Homo sapiens: one gene and its partners. The protein of the gene in region 3 interacts with the protein of the main gene of each other region in a biochemical or structural test. Each region holds a gene or a part of one and is shown on either strand. Other genes may lie near its edges.

Region 1 (7,026 bases), on a different chromosome or scaffold from region 3:
CAACCTCTTCTTCCATGTGCAAGTTCACTGCACCCTGTGAAGACAACAGAGACCCTTGGAACCTGCACGTTTCACACATGAAGTAATGATTCAGCAAGATGTAATGATTCATCAAGAGTGATCTTTAAGTCCACAAGACCAGTTTGTGATTTTTGCAGTTCTTCTAGCTGAATAGCCCAGTAGACCATTTGGCACCTGTATCTCAATGGAGCTTTGTGGGTCCGTACACGTTCATCATACAGTAATGCACATGGGGACTGGAAATGGGCAATTCAAATATGACAATGGTACACTTTATAGGTAGTTTTATAAATTTGGGGATTTTCAAAAGCCACAAGACAATGGCAAACAGTAACATCGTATTTAAAGTACCTCCTTACTATATTTAAACACTATTAATCGGGTAAAACATTAAAATGGCAGGCCAGGCGCCGTGGCTCATGCCTGTAATCCTAGCACTTTGGGAGGCTGAGGCGGGCGGTTTGCCTGAGCTCAGGAGTTTGAGACCAGCCCGGGCAACATGGTGAAACCCCGTCTCTACTAAAAAAAAAAAAAAATTAGCCGGGCGTGGCAGCGTGCACCTGTAGTCCCAGCTACTTGGAAGGCTGAGGCAGGAGAATTGCTTGAACCCAGGAGGCAGAGGTTGTGGTGATCCGAGATCATGCCACTGCACTCCAGCCTGGCGACAGAGCGGACTCTGTCTCAAAAAAAAAAAAAAAAAAAGATTAAAATGGCAAAATCAGTTCCTTTCTTCTTGGGAACGTGTGTCCCAACACGCCCCTCCACCAGGCAGCTTGCTGAACAATCAACTTTGGAGGCATCACTAGGCCTGGCACAGACACCAGGACATGTTGCCAGAGATGGTCTTCTCCTCATCAGGAGCCCTGGGGTGCTCAGACATTGGTACCCAAGCCTCTTAAATGCTATGAAACCCATTCTTGTCCCCCGAATGACTTAAACATCAGTGGGTACCTCCTACAAGTGTCCTTGATAATGATGGTGTGAGGGACAAACATGAAGAATAACTGTGCACAAGGTGGTAGAGAGTATTGCAGACAAGGGAACATTCGTTAAGAGCACCCGGAATCAAATGCCTTCCACACTCACTGTATTGTTTCAAAATTCTAACAACTAGCATATGAGCTAAGTGGCCAGGTGTCACTGTCCTCCCCACTTTAAAACCACAGATCCTGTTTAGGGCTCCTTCTACAGCAAGTCTCAGGAATCCATACCTTGATGTGGCCTCCCTCGTATTCATATGGGTATCGACAGTCGATGATAACAAACTCTTTAATGAGGTTGGCAAACTTGCCATTCAAAACAGATGCCATCTGTTGAGAGAAAATTAGGGAGAATCAACTTTGACCGTCAGGGAAAACTAGATTCAAGTACCCGATGTGTGGTGGGTTTCAAAAGGATGGACTTACAATTTCTGGAGAGATGTATTTTAAATCCTGATGTTTCCCAGCAACTGTATGAAAGAGATAACCCTTAAAAAGAAAAAAAGATACTTAGAGAATCTGAAAGCCTATATATTATTCACACTTATACTGTTTTGTCTGGCTGGTAGGAGGCATCTTTTAAAAAACAAACATTAATGGCCAGGCACGGTGGCTCACACCTGTAATCCCAGCACTTTGGGAGGCCGAGGCTAGTGGATCACCTGAGGTCAGGAGTTCGAGACAAGCCTGGCCAACATGGTGAAACCCCAACTCTTTTAAAAATACAAAAATTAGCCGGGCGTTAGCATGCACCTATAGTCCCAGCTACTCGGAAGGCTGGAGTGGGAAAATCGCTTGAATCCAGGAGGCGGAGGTTGCAGTGAGCTGAGATTGCACCACTGCACTCCAGCCTGGGTGACAGAGCAAGACTCCCTCTCAAAAAACAAACAAACAAACAAGCAAACAAACATTAGTTAGTACACACTAGTTACTCTTCTAGTTACTTCATTAACATCCTGACATTTAATTTTCACACAAACCAATGAGGTATATTATCCCCATTTTGAGCACCTTATCCAAGGTTACCTAGCTAGTAAGGCAGATTTAAATAAAGAAACCTCAGGTAATCTCATTTTCCTCCTGCTTTTGTCAAGAATCCACACGTCAGTAGTTAGACTGCGAATAGCACTTAAACATACAGATTTCACTCATTTACTGAGCACCTGCTATGTCCAGCATGGTGCCAGGCACTGGGGATAGGAAAAAAAGAGACCTAGCCCAGCCTTGAGGAGGAAGATGCACACATTAGCAATTACTCATTAGGGTGACTGGCTGAGCCAAGAGTTCATCTATCCCCATGCATAGGCCCATTAAGACAAATATAACCAGGCCTCAATTCAAGTTGAAAATTCCACTGAGTGTGGTGGTGCATGCCTGTAGTCCCAGCTACTTGGGAGGCTGAGGCAGGGGGAGCACTTGAGGCCATAAGTTTGAGGCTACAGTGTACTATGATAGCATGTGCGAATAGCCACTGCACTACAGCCTGAGCAACATAGTAAGACCACATCTCTCCCTGCCAAACAAGAGAAGGTTCCAAAACTGAGGATACAGCTGGATCTTTGCTTGTTCTCTTCATTCTCCGTTCCTTCAAAACCCATTTGGGCTGAAATATCAACGGCCCAACCCCAGACGTTCCCCAACCCCCTAGCCAAGATAAACCCTTTTACTTCTCACGGCATGCTGTTTATGTTTACACCTCACTAAAATTTATTTCAGTCTACCATGTGGTACATGTAGTTCACGTCTCACCTCTCCAACCACATGCTAAATTCTTTGAGGGAAGGAACTGTATCTCATTTTGGAATCTCTGCCTAACACATAAGTGCTTCAATAAATGTTAACTAAATTAATGAATAAAACATTGATCTGGTAACCTTCAAGTCAAAATGTGATTAAAGAAGCTGCTATTGACACATTCCCTGTCCTAGCCTTGTATTTTACTGCAGCCAAGCCTTCATGTAGTATATCAGGCTATTAGAAGATCTTCCTCTAGACTTCCTGGAGGGTCTTTTCCCTCAATGGCCAAGCTTCTCTGAACGGAGAAATTCAGTCTCAATCCCAGACCTTCTAAGATAACCTTTCAACATGCAGACTTGTAGTGTGGCTACAGATTTATTTCTGCTGTACACTATCCTGCTAATTACTATTTTTATAATAACACAGTTCCCAGAGAGCCTAGTCTTTGGGTTACAATCAAGGTGGTTGGTGGACAGCTCCCTACCTAAAACTGCCCATCAGCTATAGTGATATCTACAGTCTCAGAAACCAACATATACCTGATCATGAGAAACTAAGTTTGCTTCCCTACCTTTAACATTCTTTTAACTGTGTCCTTTTGGAGGTATGCCAGGAACCACCCTGGGGAGGGAGACAGGCTGAGTGGGATTCTAAATACCCACACTCCCTCCTACACTTGCCAGAGCAGCTCTGCTTGCAATTACCTTGGAGAAGTCTCCTATAAGGTCCCTTGGGTCATTGTCCAAAATGTTCTCAATGGTTCCTTTGGGGGAAGATGCCAGGGATAAAGACTGATGAAGAGTCTGTAACAAATCAAAGGTAGAGAATGAGACAAGGGTTCTGAATGGAACTTCCGAAAACATTCACTTGGAGCATGTCTCGAGGAGACTAAAATGTTAATGCCTACATTTAGTAAGAAGTTTTTATTTTATTTTATTGAATCTGGAGTGAACAAAAACAGATGTGGGTTATTGACTAGGTCTCCTATTATTCCAGTGTCTAACCGAATTGCTCTGAAACTAAGTTTTCCTTCCTTCCTTAAAAAAAAAAAAAAAAAAAGGGGGTGCAGGTGGTTTGGCTCATGCCTGTAATCCCAGCACTTTGGGAGGCCAAGGTGGGTTACTCACTTGAGCCCAGGAGTTCCAGACCAGCCTGGGCAAGGCAGGTGAATCGCTTGAGCCCAGGAGTTCCAGACCAGATCAAAGAGCAAGACCCTGTCCACACACACACACACACACACACACACACACACACACACACACACACAAGCTGGGCATGGTGGTGTGTGCCTGTAGTCCCAGCTACTTGGGAGGCTGAAGTGGGAGGATCACCTGAGCCTGGGGAGGTCGAGGCTACAGCAAGTGGTGATGGTGCCACTGCACTCCAGCCTGGGTGACAGACTGAAACTATCTCCAGAAAAAGAGAAAGAAACAAGGGGGGTTAAAACTAGGATTAAGTTTAGAAAAAGTATGTCTTAACTTTTTTTTTTTTTTTTTTTTAAAAAGACAGAGTCTCGCTCTGTCGCTCAGGCTGGAGTGCAGTGGAGTACAGGAGTGGAGTGCAGGCTGGAGTACAGTGATCTTGGCTCACTGTAACCTCTGCCTCCCAGGTTCAAGCGATTCTGCCGCAGCCTCCAGAGCAGCTGAGACTATAGGTGTGCGCCACCACGCCCAGCTAATTTTTGTATTTTTAGTAGAGACGGGGTTTCACCATGTTGGCCAGATGGTCTTGAACTCCTGGCCTCAGGTGATCTGCCTGCCTTGGCCTCCCAAAGTGCTGGGATTACAGGTGTGAGCCACCGCGCCCGGCCTACGTCTTAGCTTTATTCAATGAGAAGAGGAAGCCAGCTGTTAAAAAGGGGATAATTTGAGTAAAAGGATAATACTTGTAATACACAGAAACACATTAAATGTTTTAACCCATGAATTCCTGATTATTATTGAAAAACAACTATAAGTCTTGCTTTCAACTTTGGAAGATGCTTGGTAGGGCATTATTTGGAAACTGGCAAATAAAGAGATCCAATATTCATCCTGCCTTTCCCAAGGGTAACCACAGTGTTTGATGAGTGTAAGTTTCTCTTTATAGATATATTCTAGCTAATTAATGAGGAAAGAATGTAAAAACTGCAGTATCATCTTTCTGAAACCCTGGTGAAATGAAGTAAAAAATCTGGGCAGCAATCACCAATGGCTGCCTGGCACATTATACTTCCTGATCAAAGTAGACAAAATCACCTATGTGATATTCTTGCCAAACAAATAGAACTGGAATTCAATCCATCCTTTCCAGAGTTAGGTTAAGGCAATATAGGGGATAGAAGACAATGTCTGAAGACCCCACAGGACTGTGGGAACCTTTGCAGGACAAATGACTTGAGCTCTTCAACAAATAAAAATATGCAAGAGGGAAACAGATGGAGCACTGAAATCTGAAGAGTAAGAGACCTATTGACCAACTACAGTGTATAGACTTTATTTGGATCCAGATTTTAACAAATAAACTGTAAAAGTACTTAGGAGACAACTGGGGAAAACTGAACCCAGACTGGATATTTGACATTTGATAGTAAGAAATTTAGCTCTGCCGGGCGTGGTGGCTCATGCCTGTAATCCCAGCACTTTGGGAGGCCGAGGTGAGTGGATCACTTGATGTCAGGGGTTCGAGACCAGCCTTGCCAACATGGTGAAACCCCGTCTCTACTAAAAATATAAAAAATTAGCCAGGCGTGGTGGTGGGCGCCTGTAGTCCCAGCTACTTGGGAGGCTGAGGCGGGAGAATTGCTGGAACCTGAGAGGCGGAGGTTGCAGTGAGCAGAGATCGACCCATGGCACTCCAGTCTGGGCGACAGAGCGAGACTTGGTCTCAAAAAAAAAAACAAACAAAAAAACACCCAGAAATTTAGCCCTGTATGATATGTTTGTGTGAGGAAAACACCCCACAAACTCAAAGTGATTTTTCTTATTCCCTCACTCAACAGCAACAGAAGACAGAAGTGCTGTTACCCCCAGATATGAGGGGATTTCTCCCTACCAGCAAGCAAGCAAGCAAGCAAGCAGTTCTGCAGTGGAAAATAGCTGGGTGCCGTCCAATTCAATTCTGACACTATCTACCTGCAGAGCGTCAGATCAGGAAGTTGAGGGCCCAGTCCTCAAAACCACACCACCCTTCAGACACCAGTTGGGCCTCTGGATCTTCTGATCTACGACCACCAGCTTTAAGTAGGGGTTCCCATGACCCCTTCTTTGGGTTTAATTTGCTAGAAGTGGCTCACAGAACTCAAGAAAACACATTTACCAGTTTATTATGAAGGATATTCAAAGGATATAGAAGAAGACATGCATAGGGTGAGGTATGGGAGAAGGGACATGGAGCTGCCATGCTCTCCTTGGGTGCCCCAACCTCCAGGAACCTCCATGTGTTCAGCTATCCAGAAGCTCTCTGAACCCTGTCCTTTCAAGGTTTTAGGGAGGCTTCATTACATAGAAATGATTGATTAAACCATTGGCCATGAGTGATCAACTTGACCTTTAGCCCCTCTCCTTTCCGTAGATATTGGAGGGTGGGGCTGAAAGTTCCAACCTCTAATCATGTCTCTGTCTTTCCAGTGACCAGTCCCACCCTGAAGCTATCAATCATTAGTATACAAAAAGATATGACCTTGGATATTCCAAAGATTTTAGGAGTTATATGACAGAAGGGGAAGAAGACTAAATATATATTTCACAATATCACAGGTATGATAACTGTACTCTAGCAATGCTTGACATTTTCTCCACAATGGAATTTAAAATACTAAAAATTAAAATATATGAAAATAAACCAAAACATGAGGGCCAATATATATACAAAATAATTATTAACAGTATTATTTTATCCAAAAAAAGTTTTACAAATATGGAAATAAAAAGGTCAATCTCTATTACGGTAAAAGAAAATGAATATTCTGGCCGGGCACAGTGGCTCACACCTGTAACCCCAGCACTTTGGGAGGCCAAGGCGGATATATCACCTGAGGTCAGGAGTTCAAGACCAGCCTGGCCAACTTGGTGAAACTCCGCCTCTACTAAAAATACAAAAAAAATTAGCCAGGCGTGGCAGTGGGCACCTGTAATCCCAGCTACTCAGGAGGCTGAGGCAGAGACTTGCTTGAACTGGGGAGGCGGAGGTTGCCGTGAGCCAAGATCCTGCCACTGCACTCCAGCGTGTCTCAAAAAGAAAGAAAAAGAAAATGAATATTCTTTTTTTTTTTTTTTTGAGATGAAATCTCACTCTATCACCCAGGCTG
Region 2 (7,026 bases), on a different chromosome or scaffold from region 3:
GCAGACTCTGAGATGGAGAAGAGTGTGCATGGTGTTTATTAAGAACTATACTTAGGATCAAGATTTGGAGAAGAGGAGAAGGGGGCAGGAATGGGTTTAGTGGCAGCCCCAGTTGGCCAACAGGGAGTTCTGGGGCCAGAATGACCCTTGAGAGTTGCCCCAGGTTGGGCTGTGATGACCTAGTCTTTATATCAGGGATCAGCAAGTTATGGCCTATAGGCCAAACCCAGGTTGCCACCTATTTTTTAACTAAAGTTTTATTGGAACACAGCCACACCCATCATGTACATGTCATCTGTGGCTGCTTTCATGATACATTAGCAGAGCTGAGTAGTTGGGACAGACTGCAAGGCTGGCAAAGCCTAAAATATTTAGGATCTGCCCTTGATGGAAGTTTGGCAGGCCCTGTTATGTTCCCTCATTGATCAGTTGCTGAATGGACAGTCTCTGACCTCTGTGGCCTCGGCTGCGCTGGAGGGTCCCCTTCTAAGGTGCCTTCCTTGCTCGAGGCTCCTTGGCCTTGTTCTCCAAGGACATCTCTTCTTCCTGGGTTTCTCCACGTGGCACAGTGGTTTGGCATCGTCGTACTTCTTGCATCTTACCTGAGGGCTTCAGGAGGTGGGACCTGGAGGCCCCCAGTCCATGAAAAGCCACAGCAGGGCTGGCAAAATCACTTGTGCCATTGGTCAAAGTGATCATGGGGCCTGCCCAGATTCAAGAGATGGAGCCACAGATGCCGCCCACTGCCTGAAGGAGGATGGCACAATCACGGTGCAGAAGAGCATGAGGATGAGATGCTGTCAGACCGTCTTCGGAAAAATGTGGAACACCATGGCAGGCCAGGTGGCTGCTCGGCAGTGCCGTGTCAATCCCAGCTCACCCAGGTCACCGCTGCAGTGCCTGTCCCTCCCCAACTCCACCCACGGTCCCTGACATCACGTGGGGAGGGAGTTTGAGATGGCCATGGTGGGAATGTGACACCTCGGGAATGGGCTCTACCCACCCCAACGCCAAAGAACCTGCTGCACACCCCTGCTGCCATGGGAGGACTTCTGGTTTGAAGCCACATGGGAAGAAAGACAGCAGCATTTATTGAGCACTAAGGGTCGCTACATGTCCTGGAACCTCAGGATGACTCCGTAAGCTATGATGTTACCCTTTATTTTATAGAAGGGGAGTCAGAGGCTCAGCAAGGTTGGAGGCCCTGGCAGGATTTGAACCATGGTCCCCTCGTTTTTGCCATCCTGCCTCACAGAAGACGGAGCTGGCAGGAGAAGGAGATCCTGGGTCTGAAGAAAGCTTAGGTTGGCAGGGAGGGAGAGAAAGCTGGCCAGAGAAGAGCGGGCAAAGCCTGAGGCCAGGGCAGCATGGGGTTGCCAGAAGGCTGGACAGTGGAGTCCCTGGAAAGGACTCAGGGCCAGCAGACTGCGCCAGCTGTGTGGGTGCTGGAAGATTCACCCCAACCAGGCAGCCAAACTCCTGACGTTTCTCATTGTCTGAAAAATGCATCTCTGTACTCTAAGACAACACAAGCAGAATGCGAGTGAGGTGGGCTCGGGAGGCCCTGAAGAGGGCCACGGAGAGAAAGCCGGCGGCTGGGCACCACATTCACAGCAGAAGTTTCAGTTCCTTCCCCTCACCTTCTTCCTGGGAAGCACAGTGGTTAGGCTCAACCAATGGACCAGTTTTAGGAGGAGGAGCGGGCAGGAAGGGGCTTTCATATTGGATCCTGTAGGAAGCAGTGGTATGCTACAGGGGTGACAGTGGCCTTCTTTATAACAACACTCGTTCCCGCAAGCTGGACCTTACCCACGTGCCAGCCTTGCCAGTTACACATGTCTATTACCTTTCATCCTCATAACCTTCAAGGGAAGAGGTCTTATGACTCCTCTTTGGGGAAATGAGGCTCAAGAGAAGGGGTAACCTTCCGGGTTTCAGGGTGAGCGCGTGGCAGAAGTTAAGACTTGGACTGGATGCAGGCACTTGACTTCTCCACATCACGTGGCCACGGTGCCTGAGTCAGCCCAGTGGTGCGGGGCGCCCCAGAGAGCACAGAAGCCAGGGCTGGAGACCCAGGTGTGATGGGAGAGCTTTCTTTGGGTGAGGTTGGTTCACAATCTCCCACTTTTTCCCCCCTATAGTTGAAGGATTTTCTCTCCCCGTTGTTTGTTTTAAGAATAAGATGCAAAAGTGAGAAGCGGGAGGCCTTGCCTTGTTCCGTGGGCAGACAGTGTGGGGGCTGTGAGGCCAAGGACACCTGGGAGGGGAGAGGGTGGGGGCAGACTGCATCTCCCAAGAGCAGGGTGGGGAGTGCAGGGAAGGGTCAGGAGGAGAGCAAGGCCACTGCTGAGGCAGGGTCCATGTAGGACACCTTTCGCTTGGACTCCTGGATGTCCTGGCTGGGCCCAGGCCCTGCTGTGTCCCCTGGAGGATAGGGGAGGCCTGTGGACTGCTCACAGGAGGGTGTGGCTACCTCTGCCAGGCCCCTGGGGATAGGAGAGTCACTCCACCATCCCCGTAAACCAGTGGGAGGCCCTGCAGCAGGAGCGTGGAATTAAGACGTGGGAAAATGGTCTCAGTTTTTCAGGTGCTTGTTAAAGATGCTGAGTTTTCTGGTCACCATTCTTGGAAGCCCTCACACAGCAGATTGAAAGTGAGGCTCAGAATCTTCATTTTTAAAGCATCCTCAAATAATTCTGATACCCATGGACTCTAGACCGTGCTAAGGAAAACACTGACCTGGAGGGTGAAGGCATGTGGGATCTGAAACTTTTAAGAAAACAGCTTTTTTGTCATTCTTATCTGATCTTATGAGCACCAATTTTCTTACTCTGAATGGATGTAGATGTGGAAGGTATAATGTTTGGGGAGCGCTCTTGCCCTAAGAGAGATAATGAATACAGCAGTTTGTGCATAATTGCACTTAATTATTATGTTGTGAATATATGGTTAAACTTGATAAAGATTAACTTATAAAAACTCTTATTAAAACTTCCCTGTTATTTGCCATTCATCGCTATCGTGGAGTTTTTAGGGGAGCTTGTTCGTCCATCCACCTGATAAAGTTTTGAATGCATGCTGTGTGCCTGGCTCTGGCGGGGAGTGGGGCATACAGCAGTAGCCAATAGCTGGGGTGGGAGGTTCTGACCACTCCCCTCCACCCACTTACAGTCTGGACAGAGAAATAAACTAAAAAAATCCGCAACCAACAACATACATTTTGCTTTTTTTGTAAATGTATTCTTTTTTTTTGTTTTTTTGAGACAGTCTCGCTCTGTCACCAGGCTGAAGGGCAGTGGCACAATCTTGGCTCACTGCCACCTCCGTCTCCCAGGTTCAAGTGATTCTCCTGCCTCAGTCTCCCGAGTAGCTGAGACTACAGGCACACGTCACCATGCCCAGTTGTTTTTTGTATTTTTAGTAGAGACGGTGTTTCTCCATGTTGGCCAGGATGGTCTCGATCTCTTGACCTTGTGATCCGCCCGCCTCAGCCTCCCAAAGTGCTGGGATTACAGGTGTGAGCCATTGCGCCCAGGCTACTAAATGTGATTTTTATAAATGTGTTAGTATTTACATACAAACCAATACTAGACAAGAGAGGAAAAAACCCTTATCAGACCATATATTGTGAATTTGAGTTTTAAAGAATTAATTAAACATGCAAGTTATGAACTTTTCAGGTACTCTCTAATTGAAATAAGAAGATATACACTATAAATTCTGTACAAAGCTGGCTTGCAGATTTTTTTCTCGTCATTAGAGTTAAGACATCACCTCTAAGTATGTTTAATTAAAATGTTTTCAAGATACACTGATATTTTCTTCACAGCATTTCATCTCTGCCCCTCCTCTCATTTGTGAACACGGAACCTTAGGAAAATGGTTCCCAAGTGCTTTCAAGCACAAATGTGTCTGAATGCAGAATTGTCAACAACCTGCACAGAGAATTCTGAATCCATGCTTGGCGGTTTCAGCATAGTCTTTATGCTGTTTTCTTGTCTGAAGTTTGAGCGCACCAATAGTCTATGAGAGAAGGAATCAATATGAAACAGAGTTGTTACCAATAACCTCTGCTTCCGGGTTCTCAGCGTTGCAGGTGGCGAGCTGTTTGACTTCTTAGCTGAAAAGGAATCTTTAACTGAAGAGGAAGCAACTGAATTTCTCAAACAAATTCTTAATGGTGTTTACTACCTGCACTCCCTTCAAATCGCCCACTTTGATCTTAAGGTACGTTTCAAAGTGTAAGCCAGATAGAAGCTTGTGCAGATCACAGCCTTGGTTGTTTCTCTGCTAAGAAAAATTGAGGCATCTGAAAGAGTTACATGATTTTCCTGTACCAGTTTAACAAACAGAAATATCACTATAAATCGGCAAGCATAGGATACATGCCCCCCACTGGGATGGCTAACCTTTTTGTGGGATAGAGGCTTAATGATAATTGATTACATTCTGGAATTCTTGGTAAAGAATACAAGGGGTCTTAGGAGCCAGGTTTTTTAGTAAGGGGGCTGCTCTAGCCAGCAGCTAGTGACTGGCACTGGTTCCTTCTGTGGCTCTGGGCATGTTAAGATAGAAAATGTGTTGAGTGATGCAAAGGCGTATGGCCTGACTCTGTCACCAATAATCAAGCAAACCAAACTCAGATTGGCTAATTGGGGCATTTGCCTGGCTGGATGCAGGACGCTGTTGGAGATGAAAGGGCATGTAAGCCGTCCTCCCAGCCATGACAGAGGTGTGGTCTCTTTGGGAAGGGAAGACACGACAGGAGCAATAGGAAGTGGCAATGGTGGGAAGTTCCAGTTCAAGGCAGGAAGAGGTGGTCTGGTAAAGCAGCGCGTGCTCCATCCGAGTAGTTGATTCAGACCAGTAGAGCTGGGATAGGATTTCAGAGGAGGGAGGATTTTCCCCATTCTTCTGTAGCAGAGCTGTCAATGTCCCATTCATGTCCCTGCTGGCCCCACAAACAATGTGCAAAAGCACACACTCATATACATCCTAACAGAGGGCTTGTTGCAAATACCTGTGACTCTTCCTGGCATCTTGTTTCTGGCCCTGGGAGCTGGAAATGCAAAAGAAAAATGTCCACAGAAGCAACTGTCAGCCATGGAGGATGGAGAAATGGTGGATAAAGACCCCAGCTCCCTCCTGCTACAATTGGAATAACACTGAGTTCTCCTTTTCCTCTCCCATTCCCCCAGTTACCCCCACTTGATAGGACACCTCGTAGCAGCTTCCTTCTGTTTCCTGTATCTCCTTTCTCTACCAAGTGTTTCCTGGTGTCCCCTCCCACATAACCCACTTGCATCCGAATCCTTGTCTCAGGCCTGCTTCAGGGAGAACCTAGAGCAAGACATGTATTTTCCTGCTGTTCTCTTCCAACCACCCTTTCTTCCCTACTTTTTGGCCTTTTTTTTTTTTTTGGAGAGAAGAACTATTCTGCCATCTTGTCCTCAGCATAACATATCATAGCTTTTTATTTATCTCTCTCTTTTTTTCAAGCCTGAGAACATAATGCTTTTGGATAGAAATGTCCCCAAACCTCGGATCAAGATCATTGACTTTGGGTTGGCCCATAAAATTGACTTTGGAAATGAATTTAAAAACATATTTGGGACTCCAGAGTTTGTCGGTAAGTTTCTTTGCTCCTGTGGTCATTTACGTCTCATAAACATTATTCTGGCAAACCTCCCCTGCTAGAAGATTCTTTCCCTGCTACATGTTCCTGGTTGTTGCATGAAGATAGAATCGGTTAGTTTGCTTCCTCCCAAGCTAAATGAGTGTTTGTTTCCTCTTAGCTCCTGAGATAGTCAACTATGAACCTCTTGGTCTTGAGGCAGATATGTGGTAAGGAGTATGTCCTTGGTGTTGTTTGCTTTCTGATTTATTTGACTATTCTTCTGACATGTTTTTTTGTTTGTTTTGTGTTGTTTTTAGGAGTATCGGGGTAATAACCTATATCCTGTAAGTATCAGAATTCACAACTCATACTCTCTTCTCTTCTATGAGACCATAGGTTTAATTAACCATTAAATGTGCTGTGTTGATCTCTTCAGCTTATGCATGCTTTTGATGCAAACATATTCATTTTACACCCCCAAAACATGTTTAGTTTATACTAATTAAACATGTTCTCCTAATTTGAAATGAGTCATCAGAAACTGTAGCATAATCACTGAAAGAAAGCATAGCTGTCCATCACTGCCGAGAAAACAGGTTTCCTTTAAACTACCAGACGCTGTTCCAGATTAACTTGTTAAGTGAATCCTTTTGCCTGAAGCTGAAGCATTTGCTCCTGACAGTTAAAGCCCTATGAAATATAATCAAACTGTGACTATTCGAGCACCAGATTATAATCTTATTCCACACTCCAGATGTTATAGGAGCAAAATGACAACACCAAGGGGTCATCATTAATGTTCTATGCCCAACTTTATTTTTAACAGCCTAAGTGGGGCCTCCCCATTTCTTGGAGACACTAAGCAAGAAACGTTAGCAAATGTATCCGCTGTCAACTACGAATTTGAGGATGAATACTTCAGTAATACCAGTGCCCTAGCCAAAGATTTCATAAGAAGACTTCTGGTCAAGGATCCAAAGTGAGTGTCCACGTTCCTGAAAGGTGCTTGGCCACGGCCTCAGCCAGCCCAGAGCCTGTGTCTGTTCCATGCACAGGGCCACGTTCCTCAGACCCTGCTTGCTTCATCTGCCAAAGGGCAGCATGCCATGTGAAACGCTTCAGAAAATGCAAGCAGGGCCCTCTGCCCCCACTCAGTCAGTCCCTGCAGGCACAGTGAAATAATCACAAAAAGACCGATGTTGTTTTTGGCTTTCTTCCCTGAACTGCATTTTCCACAGTATCTGCTTGGCAGGCCCAGCCAGCATGAAAACAACCTTAGTATTTGCTGCTATGGTCACAGCATTTTTTTTCTTCTCCCCCTCCCCTCAAGGAAGAGAATGACAATTCAAGATAGTTTGCAGCATCCCTGGATCAAGGTGAGTTGCATATTACGAAACTGTTTAGATCAC
Region 3 (7,026 bases):
CACCGGAAGCCCAACCCCAGAGAACCAAAGGTATGACCTGATATTCAGTGGCCCCAGCCAGGTCTTTACAGGAAGACCCTCATATCTCAGGTCTAAGAAGAGCCAGCTGATGGTTTTTAAAAAGAGTGGAATTAGTTACTCCAACCCACTTATTCAGATCTTATTTTGTTCACAATACAGTCCCTAGATTGTAGGCCCATTGGAGGCCACAGCAAAGCCTTTGTGTTCCAGTTGGCCTGATGTGCCATCTCTCAGTAATGTTCCCTTAACAGCCAGACTTCCCTAAGCCCAGCTGGGAGCTCTGAAGGTATGCGAGCCCTCCCTCAACCATGAGTGTAGGGAAAGGGACCAGGGGCCCCAGGCTTTCCTGTCAGTAATGCAGAAGTTCCTCAGATTTAGGGAAGGGGGAGCAGAGGCATAACTTTGATTCTGACAAAGAGGCATTCAGAGAGACTGAAAGGTCATTTAACAAACACTGGAATGCTTCCACATACTAGGTGCTAGGAGATACAAAACCATATAGGTCCTGGAAGGGAGGATTGATTTTTTCATTTTGGTACGTAGTAGATATTAGGGGCTTAGGAAATACACATCGAAATGAAGAGTGCATTTGCCATGTTGAACCGTTAGCCGGTATCTTATTTCCCCATTTTAAAAGTTTTAGAATCTGTGGTTGAGGACTTGTGGCCATCAGTTTTCCATAGCCAACAGACTGTTCACTACTGCCTTCAGAGCTCCTTGGACCTCAGCGGGCCTTCTTTGGAGATGGCAGAGATGGATTTAGATGTATACTCTACTCGAGCCACCCAGAGAGCCCACAAAGTCAGAGATGGAACAGGGTAAAGGAGTAAGGGTCATATGTGTGAGATGCCTTGATTTGGAACTTTGAGATTTAGGATGAGGTGGGGAAGGGCTAAAGAGGAGCTTGTTCCTGAGCCTTGCTTGGCCGAAGCATTTAGGCTCAAGCGTTTTAGAAAGAGTAGCCCTTGGTCTGAGAACTCAAGGAAACAGCTTTCTGATGAGACGTGTAGCAAGCTTCTGGTTCACATCCTTACCTGATAGTTCTTCAAACACTGCCTGGTCTGGTTCACATCCTTACCTGATAGTTATTCAAACACTGCCTGGAAGCTTCTCCTGAGTTTTTGTCTCTAATCAGCTAACTAACAGGCTGAGTGAGTTTAGTTGTAAGTCATTAATGAAGAAAGCAAAGGTTGGGGCCATTGTCAGGGTTGTGACCTGGGCTAGTTAATTACCTGGAACTGATGGTCTGTGTTACAGAGTGGTGGTATACTTGTCAGGCTTAGAAAAGAAATCAGGATGTGTATCAAAAATCATTTGGGGAAAAGATTTGACCAGCAACTTTAATTTCTCTATGTTTGCAACTATCCTGTTAATGTAGTTGTGATAATTTCAGAATTATACCAGTGCCCTTATGTTATCCTTGCTTTGCAAATTGCAAATTGCTTTGCGTGTCCTGACATCCTTCTGGCCAACAGTAGATGTGGTTTTAGGTTTAGACTCCTGGGATGGAAGCTTTTGCATTCAGGGGAATGACTTTGGGTTTGGGTGAGGATTGTAAAGAGGCAATATGGGTGCCCCACGACAAAGCAGCTATTTGTAGCTTTGTGACAGCTTGACATGCAGAGATCTAGGCTTATCAAGGCACTAAGCTAGGAGTCAGTTGTTTGTATCACTGGAAGATTGGTTACAACTTCCTTCATTGGAAGCTCCTTCAGTGCATGTTAAATGATGTTATTTATAGATAGGGTGGTGAGAAAGCTGTCTAGGTAGATGTCAGTCAGCCCAGTGTAAGAGAGACCTGCTTACTGTGGGTGCTTGGGACTATGTGGAGTGGGTGGGAGGTTTTAACTTGTTCAGTAAGGTCCTTTCCATTGTTCACAATCTGGTGAACCCTTTTTCTAACATGAGGAGCACCCACATAACCAGATCATGTCTGGCTTCCCTGTGGCTTGTGTACAAAGCGTGCTTATTGAGTTAATGTGTAAGCAGGAGACAGCCTTCTGTGCTAAATGGTATATTAACCACTTCTCAGTCTTACCACTCTCTTTCAATTTGTCTCGACCCAGGACCTCAGCAGCCATGTCGAAGCCCCATAGTGAAGCCGGGACTGCCTTCATTCAGACCCAGCAGCTGCACGCAGCCATGGCTGACACATTCCTGGAGCACATGTGCCGCCTGGACATTGATTCACCACCCATCACAGCCCGGAACACTGGCATCATCTGTACCATTGGTGAGTGGGTGTGCCCCTTCCCCCAAAAAAGGGCTTCATGGGCAGTGACCTTTCTCTCCTGAAAAGAGTAACTAAATGTCCTAACAAACCTAGGTGCTACATGGGATACTACACAGATTCTTATGAAAGGACTCAGGTCATAGGAAGTTGCAGTAAAGAATTAGTATGTGCATAGGATGGCAAATACAGTTAATAAGAGAGTATTAGACATTTCAAAATTGCTAAGATGGCGAGGTATGGTGGCTCCCAGCACTTTGGGAGGCCAACGTGGGAGGATTGCCTGAGCCTCGAAATTTGAGACCAGCCTGAGCAACTTAGACCCTGTCTCTCCAAAAAGTGAAAAAAAAAAAAAAAAAATTAGCTGGGCATGGTGGCATGCACCTGTAGTTCTGGCTACATGGGAGGCTGAGACAAAGATCACTTGAGTCCAGGAGATTGAAGTTGCAGTGAGCCATGATCACACCACTGCACTCCAGTCTAGGCAACAGAGCGAGATCCTGTCTTAAGAAAAAAAAATTGTCCGGGCGCAGTGGCACATGCCTGTAATCCAGCACTTCGGGAGGCTGAGGCAGGTGGATCACCTGAGGTCAGGAGTTCGAGACCAGCCTGGCCAACATGGTGAAATCCCATCTCTACTAAAAATACAAAAAAATTAGCCGGGGGTGGTGGCGGGTACCTATAATCCCAGCTACTTGGGAGGCTGAGGCAGGAGAATTGCTTGAACCTGGGAGGCGGAGGTTGCAGTGAGCTGAGATCTGACCATTGCACTCCAGCCTTGGCAACAAGAACGAAACTCTGCCTCAAAAAAAAAAGGAAGAAAAAAGAAAAAAACATCGCTAAGAGTAAATTTCAAATGTTCTCACCACAAAAATGTTAAGTATTTGAAGTCATGGATATGTTAACTAACCTGATTTAATTATTCCACATTGTATCCAAACTGTATGTATTGGATTACATAACTTTGTAACCCAAATTATAAATTACCAGTTTATAATAAAAAATAATTTGTTGCAAAAAGAATCCATATGGTTTAGGTTTTATGCTATAGGCAAAATTTAGAAGATGTTTTCCTTAGCAGGTCTTTGTAGGAGCAACTTAAAGACCTAGGAAAGATCTTTCTAACATGTTCTGTGCTACCAAGATTCTGTGGTTGGACATCTGGCTGGGTTTCAGTGAGGGTGGAGAAGGCTGGCCAAGTCTTAACCTAGGCTTTTCTGATACAGTGGGAGCCTGCAGAACTTGAAGGAAATGGTCGAAGTGTCCCAGTAGATCAAGAAAGTAAGCTGGCACGGTAGTAGCCTTCCATGCACTTTTTAAAGACTTTTGAGCTATTTGGGAGAGGAAAAGTTTTCAGGGAAAAAAATTCTTTAAACTTAAGCAAACTTAAATGTTTTTCCTTCTTTGAATAATTAATACTTGTGGCTTTAAAACTTTTCCTAATAGGCCCAGCTTCCCGATCAGTGGAGACGTTGAAGGAGATGATTAAGTCTGGAATGAATGTGGCTCGTCTGAACTTCTCTCATGGAACTCATGAGGTGAGCTGTGGCTGGACCCTATGGCCATTGTGATGGCCTGTAGGAAACAGGGAGGGGGTGCAGTGTTCGTTTAGCCACAGTGGACTAGACAAGGATGAGTCTGAGTTTCACAGTCAGTGTGAAGTTTGTCTTTACTAGCCCATCCCTACTCTCCTTCCCTCTTGTCCTGACAAAGCAACTGGCTGAGTCTCTTTTAGCAAAAAGGACCCCCTTTGTTGCTGGCTGTGGTTCTCCCACACACCTCTCCTACCCTTAGCTTTTACAAAGGAAGATATGGAAAGGTTCTACTGGAAAACCCTCTAAGCCTTAGGTGTCCTGGCCACAGCGCTTGACTCTCCTGTCCCAGGGTTTCTGCTTCACCTTGTGTTGCCATGGTAAACCATCTAGCAGATTGATTCTAGCTTAGAACCAAAATAACTGGGCAGGTCCATGAGAACGGTTTCCACTATTCTAAGTTTTGAGGGACTGAGCCTAATGCATAAGCACTATCTGGGGTGTAATACCCCACTTCCTCAGCACTGTATTCTCAGCCTGTGCCTTCCCAGGGGTTCTGGTACATTAAAATAACACCAGTTAGCACTCTTCCCCAGGAGCCTAGTAGGACTGTATTTGTGCTGGGCTCTTTATTAGCTGGCTTTACCTATGGACAGAGGCCTTGCCCAGGAGCCAGGTAGCAGCTGTTGGGATGGCTCCATTCCTGCCTCCATTGCCAGATTTAGAATTAACCCATTCTGAGGAGCTTGGGGTTCCCTGAGGTACCATGACTTATTTATTTTTTTATTTTATAAAACAAAATTTTGCTCTGTCATCCAGGCTGGACTGCAGTGGTATGATTATGGCTAACTGGATCCTTGACCTCCCAGGTTCAAGTGATCCTCTTGCCTCAGCCTCCCGAGTAGCTGGGAATACAGGCATGCACCACCACACCTGGCTAATTTAAAAATTTTTTTGGGGGAAATGAGGTCTCACTATATTGCCTTGGCTGGTCTCAAACTCCTGGGCTCAAGTGATTCTCTCAAATGTTGGGATTACAGGAATGAGCTACCATGCTCAGCCTGGGATTGTGCCTTTTTAAAACCTTCAGACTTAACCATAGGTTTCCCATAGATCATGGGATTTCGTAATGGCATTGATAAGAGGAATTACAGAAGAGGCAAACTTTGCACCTGTCTTGGCTTCTGTATTTCCTGTTGAGAGTAAAGAAAATGCTATCCTGTAAGGCCAATTGCCTTACAGAGGTTGCCCTCTGGCATTTGGAAGTTGGTATTAAGTTTGGACTAAAAATAAAGCCTCAGGAAATGCAATCCAAGAGTGAATTCCTCCTTTTGGGAAACACAAGACTCTTCATCATAGATTCCCTAACCTGTGTTCATAAACAGCCTATGGCCTGGCTAGTGGCTGGCCCTTAAATGTCATGGGGACCTGACCAAGTCCAGCAGACATACCATGTAGGTTAAGACATGTCCCTGTACCTTTTGGAAAATTCTGTAGTTTTCCAAAAGCAAGGGGTCCTTAGCAGGAGTCACCGAGAATTACTTGTTAGAGAATTAAGTGTTAGCTTAGCTTAGAGAGAGCTGAAGACAATGCTGGAGGTCTGTTCGCTGTTGATCCCTGCTGCTGTAGTCTGCCATGGGCTCCTGCATTCAGGGGAAGGAGCAGAAATAGATTTTTAAGAAGTTGACCTTTAAGTAGGCTTTATGGTTCCTTCATCCAGTAAAATAACACCACATAGCTCTAACATGGCAAGGGCGAGTGATACCTGCCACACCTGCTGGATGAGAGCTGGCTCCGATTTTGGTATTTTAAACTTTAAGAGGCTTTTGGAGATTATCTCTACTTTCACTCCTATTCCCAGATTATAATTAAGATTTATTTTTTATTTTTTATCTATTTATTTTTTAAAGATGTCCCTCTTGTGTGTTCATTTTGAAGTTTTAGACCAAGATGAGGTTGTGTGTGGGCTCAGCTTGGAAACTGATCTGAAATTATTCTAATTTATATAATGTAATGTAAACAGTTTCAGCCTTACCATACGTCAGGGCTATCGTTTCATGTGCACCTTTGACTAGGGGCTGGGGCGTACTTTTCCAGTTTCTGACTATTTTAAATGCTCTTCTGAGCAGAACGTTGAGATTACTGTCTTCCCTCTCACTCTGACAGAGGGACATCAAATGTCTGCATCTGATCTTTTAACAGCTTTTTTTTTTTGAGACAGAATCTTGCTCTGTTGCCCAGGCTGGAGTGCACTGGCACAATCTCTGCTCACCACAACCTCTGCCTCCCAGGTTCAAGCAATTCTCATACCTCAGCCTCCTGAGTAGCTGGGATTACAGACCTGTGCCACCACGCCCAGCTAATTTTTTTATATTTTTAGTAGAGACGGGGTTTCGCCATGTTGGCCAGGCTGGTCTTGAACTTGTGACCTCAGGTGATCCGACTGCCTCGGCCTCCTAAAGGCGTGAGCCACCACGCCCAGCCCTCTTTTAACAGCTTTGGCAACTAGTCTTCAGCCCTCACTTTTGGCAGTTCACATGGGCAAGATGCATTCTTGCTGAACATGTGGTTCCATATGCCATGTTTTCCAGATTTATTTATTTATTTATTTATTTATTTAGAGAGGGAGTCTCGCTCTGTCATCCAGGCTGGAGTGCAGTGGCACGATCTTGGCTCACTGCAACCTCTGCCTCCTGGGTTCAAGAGATTCTTCTGCCTCAGCCTCCTAAGTATCTGAGATTACAGGCACCTGCCACCACACCCGACTAATTTTTGTATTTTAGTAGAGACTTGGTTTCACCTTGTTGGCCAGGCTGATCTCGAATTCCTGACCTCAAGTGATCCATCCGCCTTGGCCTCCCAAATTGCTGGGATTACAGGCGTGAGCCACCACACCTGGCCTAGAAATAATGACTTTTAAACAACCTAAATGTAGAGCCTTCCACAGGACAGCATTGATGGATGCTTTACCACATAACATCCCAATAAAGCCACAGCTGAAGTGGAAGACTCAGTACACCTCCCAGAGATGCTCTAAGAGATTATGATATATGACATAGATTTGAATAATATACCTAATAATTGGTATGTTTATAATATATGGTTTTACATCCCCAAGACCAAAAATGCATGTTTGCATGAAACACTCATGGTTACAAAAATATATTAGGCCACCAAAAAAACCCCCACGTTTCATAAAGTAGAAATTATACAGACACATTCTCTGATAAAATTTTTTAGTGG

Evidence for each region.
Region 1: the proteins of PKM (region 3) and CDC25A form a complex in vitro, tested with the Homo sapiens proteins (one study listed by BioGRID).
Region 2: the proteins of PKM (region 3) and DAPK1 form a complex in vitro, tested with the Homo sapiens proteins (one study listed by IntAct).

What each region holds. Positions count from the first base shown.
Region 1 is NC_000003.12:48,164,404-48,171,429, forward strand, and holds part of CDC25A (M-phase inducer phosphatase 1), read right to left. Parts: intron 3,542-7,026; coding exon 3,443-3,541; intron 1,491-3,442; coding exon 1,428-1,490; intron 1,332-1,427; coding exon 1,233-1,331; intron 35-1,232; coding exon 1-34. UniProt on the Homo sapiens protein: Tyrosine protein phosphatase which functions as a dosage-dependent inducer of mitotic progression. Directly dephosphorylates CDK1 and stimulates its kinase activity. Also dephosphorylates CDK2 in complex with cyclin-E, in vitro.
Region 2 is NC_000009.12:87,633,855-87,640,880, forward strand, and holds part of DAPK1 (death-associated protein kinase 1), read left to right. Parts: intron 1-4,088; coding exon 4,089-4,227; intron 4,228-5,499; coding exon 5,500-5,629; intron 5,630-5,795; coding exon 5,796-5,844; intron 5,845-5,934; coding exon 5,935-5,961; intron 5,962-6,443; coding exon 6,444-6,596; intron 6,597-6,947; coding exon 6,948-6,993; intron 6,994-7,026. UniProt on the Homo sapiens protein: Calcium/calmodulin-dependent serine/threonine kinase involved in multiple cellular signaling pathways that trigger cell survival, apoptosis, and autophagy.
Region 3 is NC_000015.10:72,214,172-72,221,197, reverse strand, and holds part of PKM (pyruvate kinase PKM), read left to right. Parts: coding exon of another isoform or gene 1-30; intron 31-2,087; coding exon of another isoform or gene 2,088-2,100; coding exon 2,101-2,254; intron 2,255-3,697; coding exon 3,698-3,789; intron 3,790-7,026. UniProt on the Homo sapiens protein: Catalyzes the final rate-limiting step of glycolysis by mediating the transfer of a phosphoryl group from phosphoenolpyruvate (PEP) to ADP, generating ATP.